Homo sapiens: one gene and its partners. The gene in region 1 interacts genetically with each later gene. Each region holds a gene or a part of one and is shown in the gene's direction. Other genes may lie near its edges. The genes, in order: GGPS1, ATG7 and FASN.

The links.
Region 2: of GGPS1 (region 1) and ATG7, changing one enhances a phenotype caused by changing the other (phenotypic enhancement), as found in Homo sapiens cells (one large-scale study listed by BioGRID).
Region 3: changes in GGPS1 (region 1) and FASN together harm fitness more than expected from each alone (negative genetic interaction), as found in Homo sapiens cells (one large-scale study listed by BioGRID).

What each region holds. Positions count from the first base shown.
Region 1 is NC_000001.11:235,334,986-235,338,631, forward strand, and holds part of GGPS1 (geranylgeranyl pyrophosphate synthase), read left to right. Parts: intron 1-256; 5' UTR 257-279; coding exon 280-349; intron 350-3,646. UniProt on the Homo sapiens protein: Catalyzes the trans-addition of the three molecules of IPP onto DMAPP to form geranylgeranyl pyrophosphate, an important precursor of carotenoids and geranylated proteins.
Region 2 is NC_000003.12:11,278,751-11,282,396, forward strand, and holds part of ATG7 (ubiquitin-like modifier-activating enzyme ATG7), read left to right. Parts: exon of another isoform or gene 1-70; intron 71-2,243; 5' UTR 2,244-2,352; intron 2,353-3,419; exon of another isoform or gene 3,420-3,442; 5' UTR 3,443-3,646. UniProt on the Homo sapiens protein: E1-like activating enzyme involved in the 2 ubiquitin-like systems required for cytoplasm to vacuole transport (Cvt) and autophagy.
Region 3 is NC_000017.11:82,095,305-82,099,564, reverse strand, and holds the start of FASN (fatty acid synthase), read left to right. Parts: upstream 1-1,328; 5' UTR 1,329-1,444; intron 1,445-3,112; 5' UTR 3,113-3,119; coding exon 3,120-3,246; intron 3,247-4,092; coding exon 4,093-4,245; intron 4,246-4,260. UniProt on the Homo sapiens protein: Fatty acid synthetase is a multifunctional enzyme that catalyzes the de novo biosynthesis of long-chain saturated fatty acids starting from acetyl-CoA and malonyl-CoA in the presence of NADPH.

The sequences.
Region 1 (3,646 bases):
CATATTTTTAGTAGAGACAAGGTTTTGCCATGTTGCCCAGGCTGGTCTCGAACTCCTGGGCTTAAGCTATCCGCCCGCCTCAGCCTCCCAAAGTGCTGGGATTACAGGCGTGAACTACCGTGCCCAGCAACAGAATCTTCTTTTTAAACCAGACTAGGTGTCTTTTCACAAACACCCTGCAATACAAATTCCTTTGCAGTTTGACACTGAAAGATGATTAGTTTCATGTGATCTTTATGTTTCTCCTTTTTGACAGATTAGCTTTGAAGTTTAAATCCAATGGAGAAGACTCAAGAAACAGTCCAAAGAATTCTTCTAGAACCCTATAAATACTTACTTCAGTTACCAGGTAATACTTCACTTACAGTCCATATAGGGTCATTTTCATGCAGTAGTGGTCGTTCAAATGTTAGCAAATAGAAAAGGTTAGACTTGCTAGCCGTTGAGATTTTCTATTTAAGGTGATGCGTATGAGAAAAATGATAAATAGAACATTATAATTTTTTCTTTATTAAAAGGTAATTTTTGCCAGGTGCAGTGATACATACCTGTTGTCCCACCTACTTGGGAGGCTGAGGCAGGAGGATGGCTTGAGCCCAGGAGTTTAAGGCTATAGTGCACAATGATCACACCTGTGAATAGCCACTACACTCCAGCTTGGGCAACATAGTGAGACCCCGTCTCTTAAAAAGAAACGTAATTTTTGAAGGCACCCTTTAAAACATATCCAATTATTTAACATATCTTGAAAAATAAAAATACTTAAAACATTTTGGTATCTCATTGGAGGTTGTACTCTTTACGGATATTACGCATTCAGATTCCCCACTGTTTAGATATTAGGGGAAGTTACGCAGATTTGTTTAACAGTAGAACACTTTATTTACCATACATGTTCAAGTTTACCTTCTATGTCTGTATTTTCCAGTATCTCACACATACACTGCATTTCATATACTACTGGTTCCTTTGAGAGCCAAATAATAATGTATCTAAAATCACAGTATTTGGAAATATAGCCCACTTTATTCCTGTATAAGGGTATGCCACCTTGGACATGGCTTCCTACCTCACGTGTACGTGTGTGTTTTTGTTTTATTTTGCTTCTTTAAAAACTTGTCTGGAGGCTGGGCGTGGTGGCTCACGCCTGTAATCCCAGCACTTTTTGAGGCCAAGGCGGGCGGATCATGAGGTCAAGAGGTTGAGACCAGCCTGGCCAACATGGTAAAACCCCGTCTCTACTAAAAACACAAAAGTTAGCTGGGCATGGTGGCGCATGCCTGTAGTCCCAGCTACTCGGGAGGCTGAGGCAGGAGAATCACCTGAACCTGGAAGGCAGAGGTTGCAGTGAGCTGAGATTGCATCACTGCACTCCAGCCTGGCAACAGAATGAGACTCCGACTCAAAAAAAAAGAAGAACTTGTCTGGAAATGATAATAAGCAAAAACTCATGAATATAATAAACAGGGGTTATTGTAATAAAAAATCATTTGTATTAGAATATTCTTTCTCATAGACATAATATAGGCCAGGTGTGGTGGCCCACACCTGTATTCCCAGCACTTTGGGAAGCCAAGGCAGGATTGCTTGAGACCAAAAGTTTGAGACCACCTTGGGCAACATAACAAGTCCCCCTCTCTGTTTTAAACATTTTTTAAAAAAGAAGAAATAATATAAAAGTTGGTAAATTATTTGACAAGCATAAAAACCTATTTAGCCATACTGTGACTAAACTCTAATGATGCTCTCAATTCAGTCTCAATAGACACTTTTAAATTTCCGTGCTAAAGTACACACCTTTCTTTATGAGCACTTCTCTGTGGTAATATGTGCATTTCTGTTCTTCATGAGCCTGGGAAGGATAAAAGCCAAAAGAATGCTTGCTCCTGTGCTACACCTTGGAAACCATAATTAGTGTCATTTTTATTTTGGCCGACCCTAATAGAGACTCGCCTGCTAATGTCAATGCATGAGAAGAATGAGGGAATGACAGAAATGGAGAATTCAAAGGGAAGGTTGCCCACTGTTTAAGAAAAAGCCAAGAGACTGCTTTTGAGTGACATTTATCCAGCAGTTAGTAACTTATTTCAGTATCTCCCAGTGAGAAACATGGCACAGTTTCACTTTCACTCTACCCAGCTCTTACTGCCAGACATCCTTTAGAACACGCTCACAAACACTAGCTGGAACTGGGCTGGCATTAATAGCAAGCCAGTTATCAGTGCTGACAAAAGTCTAACAAGCATCGCTTGAATGTCTCTTACTCTGCTACTTACAAAGCAAGGACTGCCTACAGTTACATTTTAACCATAATGCTTACTTATGCTGTGACCACCTTCTGTGACTTCCTTTTTTTTAATTCTCATTACTTGGAAATAATGTTTTAAGACATTAGATAACATATTTAAAATTATCACTAGGTACCTCACCTTTTTATTCAAGTACGTTCTTGATCCATGATGGAATACAACCTCAAAAGATACTACTAAAGAAATATGACATTGCACTATGCACATAACACACTTATTTTTTTACAGAGAGCTTCAGAGTTACTAAAGTAACTTAGAGGTGTGCCAGGTCATTTATACTGTTGTAATATTACTCTTGCTAATAAATAATAATAATGCTATCAGTATTTTCTGAAGTCAACCTGGCCAACATGGTGAAACCCTGTATCTACTAAAAATACAAATATTAGCCAAGTATGGTAGCGCATGCCTGTAGTCCCAGCTGAGGCACGGGAGTCACAGGAGCCTAGGAGGCAGAGGTTGCAGTGAGCCGAGATCACGCCACTGCACTCCAGCCTGGGCAACAGAGTGAGACACTGTCTCAAAAAAAAAAAAGGATTTTCTGAAATTAGTAAAGAAAATTATTTTTATTTTTAAATTTCTCATACTTGCTGTCATCTTATGTTTATGTTTGTTTATTTGCCTTAGTGTGGGGCCCTAGATGAGGTGAAGGGTGGGATTAGGGAGAGATGAAGCTGGCAGTGGAGGAAGAAGGGCTCCAAAAAGAGAGACAATAATGTTTAGATCTTAAAGAGGAAGCAGTAATCTTTTAATTTTGAGAGATCTCTGTGATTAGCCTCAGTACTAGAAATTATTTTGGAACTCAGCCAGGCGCGGTGGCTCACATCTGTACTCCCAGCACTTTGGGAGACCGAAGTGGGCAGATGGCTTAAGCCCAGGAGTTCAAGACCAGCCTGGGCAACATGGCAAAACCCTGTCTCTACTAAAAATACAAAAAATTAGCCAGGCATGTGATACGCCCTTGTAGTCCCAGCTTACCTGGGGGACTGAGGTGGGATGATTACCGGAGCCTGGGAGGTTGAGGCTGCAGTAAGCCAAGATCACACCACTGCACCCCAGCCTGGGTGATTAAGGGAGACCCCGTCTCAGAAAAAAAAAAGGGGGGGAAACTTAAAAGCATCAGGCTAAACACTAGCATGTCATCAGAGGGGAAAAAAATATTAAAACTGTAGTACCTCAAAAATAAGCCATATATTGTACTGTTTTCTATATAACATTCAAAAGTAAAATGAAAAATGAAATTTCACATTGAGACTCTGTTTTTCATCTTCAAAAAAATGTGTTTAAGTGATACAGGCCAAGTGCAGTGGCTGACTTATTATCCCAGCACTTTGGGA
Region 2 (3,646 bases), on another chromosome or scaffold:
AGCTGACATGGTTCCTTTCTCATAGAATTTTTATTCTACTGAGGAGGATAACTGCATACGTGCTATGAAGGTAAGGTAGTTGGTGCTCTTTGAGGACTAGAATACAGGAGGATCGACCTAATCCAGAGCTGAGGGAGTCAGGGAAGGCTTCCCTCAGAAGTGATGATTGAGCTGTGATTTGAAGTGAGCAAAGAAATTCACTAGATGATGGGTATGTGGAGGTGGCCAAGAAAATTCTAAGCTTATGCAGAGGCCATGGGGTGTTTCTGCAGCTGATGATGTGGAGCTGAGTCAGCTTCCTCCCTTTGCCTGGAGAGTCCCCACTCCCTACCTCTAGCCTCCTCATCCAGGGGTCCTTGCATGGGGCTAGTGCTGTCATCTAACCCTCCCTTTCTCAACCATCAGGGGTGGGTTTAGAAGTTTGTGGAGCTGTTTTATTTTGCTTTGTTTTGTGACATTGACCAGAGGGCATTACTGCATTTATTGAGAGAGAGCCAGAGATGCTCAACATTCTGCAGTGTGCAGGGATAGCTCTAAACAAAAAAGAATTGTTCCATCCAGCATGCCAGTAGGGCCCCTGTTGAGAATCTACTTGGATGTTCTTAAAACCTTGGGTTAAGGGTTTCTATAGGATATTCTTAAAACCTTGGCTTGGCTGGGTGTGGTGGCTCACGCCTGTAATCCCAGCACTTTGGGAGGCCGAGGCGGGTGGATCACAAGGTCAGGAGTTCGAGACCAACCTGACCAACATAGTGAAACCTTGTCTCTACTAAAAATACAAAAATTAGCCAGGCATGGTGGCGGGTGCCTGTAATCCCAGCTACTCAGGAGGCTAAGGCAGGAGAATCGCTTGAACCCGGGAGGCAGAGGTTGCAGTGAAGCCGAAATTGAGCCACCTCCCTCCAGCCTGGGTGACAGAGCAAGACTCTGTCTCAAGACTCCGTCTCAAAAAACAAAAAATAAAAAGCAAACAAACAAAAAAACCCCACCTTGGCTTAAGGGTTTCTATAGGAAACACTGTTGCCTCATCAGTCTAATTTAGATATCCCTCCTCCTATAACATTCTGTACAAACGCCAGGCTATACTGTATTTGTTTTACCTCCAAATTGCTATACTCCGATTCCTCTTCTGTTTTGTTGTCTGTTTTGGCTTCAAAATTGTTAGCTCTTTAAAGGTGGGGACCATAGTTTTTTTTTTTTTTGCCATTGAACCCTGAAATGTAGCACAGGGACAAGTATGTAACATAACTGTTTATTGAAGAAATAACTAATGGAAGCCCCAATTTCATTTCTTTTCTTTTCTTTTTTTTTTTTGAGACAGAGTCTTGCTGTGTCACCCAGGCTGGAGTGCAGTAGTGCTATCTCAGCTGACTGCAACCTGCGCCTCCCGGGTTCAAGCAATTCTCAAGCTTCAGCCTTCCGAGTAGCTGGGATTACAGGCGCCTGCCACCATGCCCGGCCCTTTTTTTGTATTTTTAGTAGAGACGGGATTTCGCCATGTTGGCCGGGCATGTTATTGGTAAACAATATGATATTAGTCCTGCTTTTTGAGTGTCTCCTATGGGCCAGATGTATGCATTTTCTAGTTGAATCTTCACACTAATTCTGCACAGTAGGTGGTATCCCCATCTAACAGAAGAGGAAACAGACTCGGAGAAGTTGAATGACTTGTCCAAGGTGGTGTGGCTAGAAAGTAGCAGAGACAGGATTTGAACTCAGGTCTCTCTGGCTCATGAACCTATGCCCTTTCCAGTCTAGCAGACCATCTGCCTTGTCCAGTTGTTTTCTTGAACTTAGATTTAGGGCCCTAGATTTACCTCTATGAAATTTCAAATCTTGTTAAAATAGGCCTGCCATTCCAGATGGTTGGAATCTTTTTTTATCCTGAATTTTAGTCACTTGTATTGCCTGTTTCTTCTTTTGTCATGAAATTGATAAGCAAATCTATATCATTATCCAAGTTATTGGTAAAATATGGTAATAAGAATACTTTATTGAATATGTTTATTTGCCTATTCCCCCTGCTCTTAGCCCCAGCACAGGGTTCAGTGCACATGAAATACTTAGTAAATGTTGATAAATATTCATTCATGTGGATAAATAAAATAAATTGGACAGGCCCAGAGACTAAGCCAAAGACGTACTGCTATTAGCTCCTTTCTAATTAACATTAATTAATTCAGTAACCAAGATCCTTTGAATAAGATTATTTTACCAGTTCTTAATCCCTCTAATTATGTCAGGATCCAATTCCTGTATCTTCACCTTGTCTACCGGGATTTCTAGAGCAGCCTTGTGAGAGACATTTCTGAGACCTGTATGTCCTGCGTCTATGATTCTTCCCTGATCAAGGTAGGAATGCAGTTACTCTGTCATGACTTTTTCTTAGAGAAACCATATTGGCCTCTTGTGATTACTTAGGGCTGCCTCATACAGTTATGCAGGCTGTGCACTGCACAAGAGGCCACATCAAAGGGGGTTCCATTTATATCATAGGTATCATGGGTGCATTTTTGTAATGACAGTGGCAGAGAAGGCTACCATGTCTTGAGCTAATCTAATCAGTATATTACAACATTTCTCTAACTAAAGGAAGTAAAATCTTGAAGCAGAGGTGTAATTTTCTGATTGTACAAAGGTGCTAAGTGGACTAGAGTGGCCCATATGGGCCTTTCCTGGGAGCAAAACTTCTGTCCAGTGGTCTTTAGAACCCATCTTTATTCTTATCTTTGAAAAATCAGGCCGGGTGTGGTGGCTCACGCCTATAATCCCAGTACTTTGGGAGGCTGAGGCAGGTGGATCACCTGAGGTCAGGAGTTCGAAACCAGCCTGGCCAATATAGTGAAACCCTATCTCTACTAAAAATACAAAAAATTACCTGGGCGTAGTGGCGGGCGCCCATAATCCCAGCTACTTGGGAGGCTGAGGCAGGAGAATTGCTTGAACGTGGGAGGCAGAGGTTGCAGTGAGCCGAGATCGTGCCATTGCACTCTAACCTGGGCAACAAGAGCGAAACTCCATCTCAAAAAAAAAAAAAAAAAGAGAAAAGAAACAAAGAAAAATCAAACATTTTGAAAATCGGAAATCAGGCCTTTGCTTGGCCCAGTTTTAAAGTACTTCTCCCGTTTCTCAGGATTCTTTAAACATACCAGAAATGAAAACCACAGAGATGTAATTATTTAGAAGCAAGCCTTCATAACTCAGCCAGCTTTTAGGAAACCATCATAGATTTTAGTTGTTGGTTGGCATAGGGCTCCACAGTGATTTAGACAAATCCAGGTGGGTGTCTCTCAGATGAACAGAGAAATGGGCAACACTGTTGATCAGTGGAGGTAACAAAAGGACTCAGAAGGAGGCACACTGCCCTCCATCTTCCTGGCATTATTGCTTCCTCTCTCCTCTTTCCCACATTTTCTCAGCTGTCACTGTCCCTCCCATGTAGGCTTCTCAAACCCCATAATGCTGGTATCCAGTGCATCCGTTCTCAAAAACTGAAGCTGATGGACACCAGATTGCATGTGAAGGTGAAGGATATTATAGCAGAAGGAAACCAAAATAAAAGAAAAACAGCTCCTGGAAGTAACCAATGAGAAGGACAGATAAGAGTTTGAAGACTGTGGATGTGACTGCTTGTTCCCTGGTTGAC
Region 3 (4,260 bases), on another chromosome or scaffold:
TCTCAGGAGAGGAAGGAAGCGGGACACCTGCAGAGGGGCCGGGGGCCCCAGTCTCCGGTTCCCCTTCAGCGGCCCGGGCTTGCTGAGCCCTCAAAGTAGGACACGCAGCCAGAGACACCTGTGGCCTCACAAGGCCCGCTTGCCCCCCATGGGGTGCCTGGCCCCGCAAGCGCGAAGCGGTCAGAAAAGGGAGGCCGCGCTTCAGGGCTCAGGCCGCCCAAGGGGCCACGATTCGAGGAATCACTCGGGAGGGAGGGAGCGCGCGAGGGCCGGGCTGAGCCCCCGCCCGTGGGTGCGCGCCTGGAAAACTCGCAGCCTCCGCCCTGGGAAGTGGGGCAGCGGCTCCCTTTGTCCGCACCACACCAGGTGGGTGTCCCGGCCGACTCCGCTCGCCACGTGGCCGCGCCCCTCCCCTCCGCCGAGCTCCAGCGGCCTGGAGTGCGCTCGCCCGTTCGGCCCTGCGCCTCGTCCGGGTCCCCGGGAAGCTGCTAAGGAGGGGCCGTCGGGTGGGTGGACGTCCGTCTCGGGTCTGGGTTCCCCGCCGCACCCGCGAGGAAAACCGGGGATGCGCTGCGATGACCGGCAGTAACCCCGGCCGGGGCGCCCGCGGCCGGGGTCAACGCCCGCACTTGCGCCGCGGCCCGCGAGGCATCCGGGACCGCCCCGCCGCCCGCCCATCACCCTATCGCCTAGCAACGCCCACCCGCGCGCCGCCATTGGGCCGGTGCGAACACCCCTGGCGCCCGATTGGTTGCTGCTGCCGCCGCGCCGCGCAACGCCGCGCCCTCAGCCAGCTCCGCGCGGGCAGCGACGGCGGCGTGGAGTCGGCGGCCGAAGTGCGGGCACGCGGGTCCGTCCGTCCTTCCGCGCGCCTGTGGGTCCGAGCGCCCCGCCGCAGCCGGCTGGACCCCCGGTGTGGCCACGGGGTAGTCCCCAGTGTGGCCCAAGCATTCCCATCCCGCACACGTGGCCCCGGCGGACACGGGGGTCGGGGATGGCTCGGGAGGCGCGCCGCGGGCTCGGTCGCAGCCGCGTGCGCGTCGGGGCCCGCGGGGCGGGAGGCGGAAGTCGGGGGGCGGTGGTTTCCCGCCCGCCCCGCCCCCGGCGCTCCTCAGTCCCAGCCCCACCCCCCCAGGCGCGTTCCCGCGCAGGGTCCCGGCTCGGGCGGCGGCGCGCACGAGCATCACCCCACCGGCGGCGGCGCGCCGGGTCCCGGGGCGCAGCCCCGACGCTCATTGGCCTGGGCGGCGCAGCCAAGCTGTCAGCCCATGTGGCGTGGCCGCCCGGGGATGGCCGCGGTTTAAATAGCGTCGGCGCCGGCCTAGAGGGAGCCAGAGAGACGGCAGCGGCCCCGGCCTCCCTCTCCGCCGCGCTTCAGCCTCCCGCTCCGCCGCGCTCCAGCCTCGCTCTCCGCCGCCCGCACCGCCGCCCGCGCCCTCACCAGGTACGAGCAGCCGGCGCTGGGGCCGGGGCGCGGGTCGTGGTCGGGGCTGGGCCCGGGGTTCCCGGGGTGGCCCGGCTCCTCATCCTCCGCTCTCGGGGCGCGCGTGGCCCGGCCCCGTATCCAGGGGTCGCCTGGGCGGCCTGTCCGGGTCTCGGTGTTCGTGCCCCTTCGGAGGCGCCCGGGGCCCCGCGGAGTAGGTGGGCGGATGGCGGGGGAAGGACGCCGGGGAAAGCCACCAACAGCCGCCTTCGCTTCCCGTGGGGGAGGCCGCGGACCCTGAAGGGCCTGGAGGAGCCCCCGGCTCGGCCTCCCCGCGCCCACAAAGGCGCCGCCGCATCCTCCTCCCGGAGCCGCCCCGGAGCCGAGGCCCAGCCCGAAGGGGACGCCGCGAGGGAGGAACGGGGGGGCGCAGGGGCCGCGCCGGGACCGGCCTCCCCATCACGTGGCGCAGCCCGGCCGAAGCGCAGGGGTCCCGAGCAGCCCCCGCCCGGGGCGAAGGGAGGCCGGGCGCGCCGCGGTGTTCCCACCCCCTGCCTGGCCGTCGACCCCGCGTGAATAGCAAGCGGCGAGGACCCAGCGTGCGGGCCTGGAGCTGGCCCGGGGCAGCCAAGCCTCTGTGAATCGCAGCGGGTGGGAAGGCGGCCGCCTCCCTGCCGGGACGGCCCAAGGGAGGCCGCACTGCCGAGGGGCGGCGCGCGTATCAGGCCCTGGGGCCTCGTGCAAGTGGCCAGACCAGCGCTGGCCTCCGCCCCCTCCCCCCAGGGCCGCACCAGCCCTCATGCTGGAGGAGGAGCCGGCGGCCTGGGCACCCGTTCCGGGTCTTAGGGACCTGGGCTCCAGGGAGGGCCTCCTGTGGTGTGTGGGTTGGTATGGGGAGGCAAGCGTCTGTGGGTTCACCCGCGCAGGTGAAGGGTGCCAGGCAACACCTGCGTGTCCTGGCCAGGAGTGGTTCTCCAGGTTGGACCCTGCTGGAGGGGTTGGACTGGCTGGGTCGGTCCACAGTGGGGCAGGGGCCACCTTTCCCCCAGAGCATAGGCTATCCCCATTTCGTCCCTCCCCAGCCCTGGTGGCTCTTGGGCTGGCCTGGACAGCGGGCCCCCACCCCAACACGGGTGAGCATGGGTGCTGAGTACCCCCCTCTAGGGCTCCCAGCCACCTCCATGCCCCGGCTTTGGGACCCTGCCTCTCCATTTCTTTGATGGCCCTTAGCAGGCTGGCCACCTGAGGCCTTGTCCCCATCTCAGGTGACCCTGCCTGCTCCTCACTGTGAGCCCCCTGGTGCCCTAGGGATGGCCTGGGACAAGCTCCAGGAGCCTTGGAAGGCTGAGACTCAGGCGAGTGGAAGCCGACACAGGCGCAGAAACCAGTAACTGCTGGGGAGGCCAGGGCTGCAGGGCTCCAGTGGGGTACCCCAGCCAATACCCTGAACTGAATGGGTCAGGGCCCAGAGGCGGGCCTGTTCCCAGAGCACGCAGCCCCTCCCAGCGAGAGCGGGGTCAGGGCCCAGGAACTGGCCACATGAGGAAGGGAGCCGCAGGAGCCAGGGCCCGCACGGACCCTCAGGGTGGTGCTTGGCCCCATGGGTGTCCACCTGTTCTGGGTGCCGAGGCTGTTGACGGGGGTGTCGTGGCCGGGATGTGTGGGGCACTCACACCGCCCGCCCTGCAGAGCAGCCATGGAGGAGGTGGTGATTGCCGGCATGTCCGGGAAGCTGCCAGAGTCGGAGAACTTGCAGGAGTTCTGGGACAACCTCATCGGCGGTGTGGACATGGTCACGGACGATGACCGTCGCTGGAAGGCGGGTATGTGGCTGCGGGGCTCCCCGTGCCTGGGGTGTGAAGCTCCATCTCCACCTTTGTCCTCACAGCAGCCTCCCTGCTGTGCTGTGTCCTCACCACCCAGGCACTGGCCTGAGGCCGGTCCCAGCTGCAGAGCCACTGGTCACCCATGGGCGAGGCCTAGCTGCAGCCTCCTTCCTGGACATTGCACCAGAGTGGCCTAGAAAATGCGCCCAGCCTGCCAGGAGGTTCCCTCAACGGCTGCAAGGCCAACAGGAGGCTCCCCCAATGGCTGCAAGGCCGAGGGCTGGCCCAGGCAGGGCCCATCTGCTTGTTACGGAGGAGCCAAGCTCAGAGGATGGGTGACGGGCTGGGGTCTCTCACCCATGCAGGGGGTGCGGGGGGCCAGAGCCCTTCCGGCCAGGCTGCCCCTGCCTGTGTCTGTCCTGAGCTGGGAGGTTGCATACCAGATGTGCTCCGGGAGGCTGGAGCAACTGCCCCACACCCAGTAGGCTCTTCCACAGAGCAGCTCTACCTGACAGGCAAGCTGTGAGTCAGCATGGTAGAGCCGAGGCACCAGCCCGGCAGATGGTCCCCCAGCCTCACTCCCGCCGAGCTCTCTGCTCTGCGGCCCATCTCAGGATTGGGGCTTGGGGCTTGGGGCTTGTGCAGCAGATCTGGTCGTACCAGTCCCCGCTTTGGGGCCATGGTCTTCCCCTCCTGGGGAGCCTGCTCCATTGTTTGGGCCTCCCAGGCATAGCAGAGAGTCCTCAGTTCCACCATGGCCCCTCCAGGGGCCTGCAGCACCCCACAGGGCCCCCACCTCTGGGCAGCTTCCGTCAGAGATTTAAACACCCGCCTGTCCCACAGGGCTCTACGGCCTGCCCCGGCGGTCCGGCAAGCTGAAGGACCTGTCTAGGTTTGATGCCTCCTTCTTCGGAGTCCACCCCAAGCAGGCACACACGATGGACCCTCAGCTGCGGCTGCTGCTGGAAGTCACCTATGAAGCCATCGTGGACGGAGGTGGGTCGGGCATTC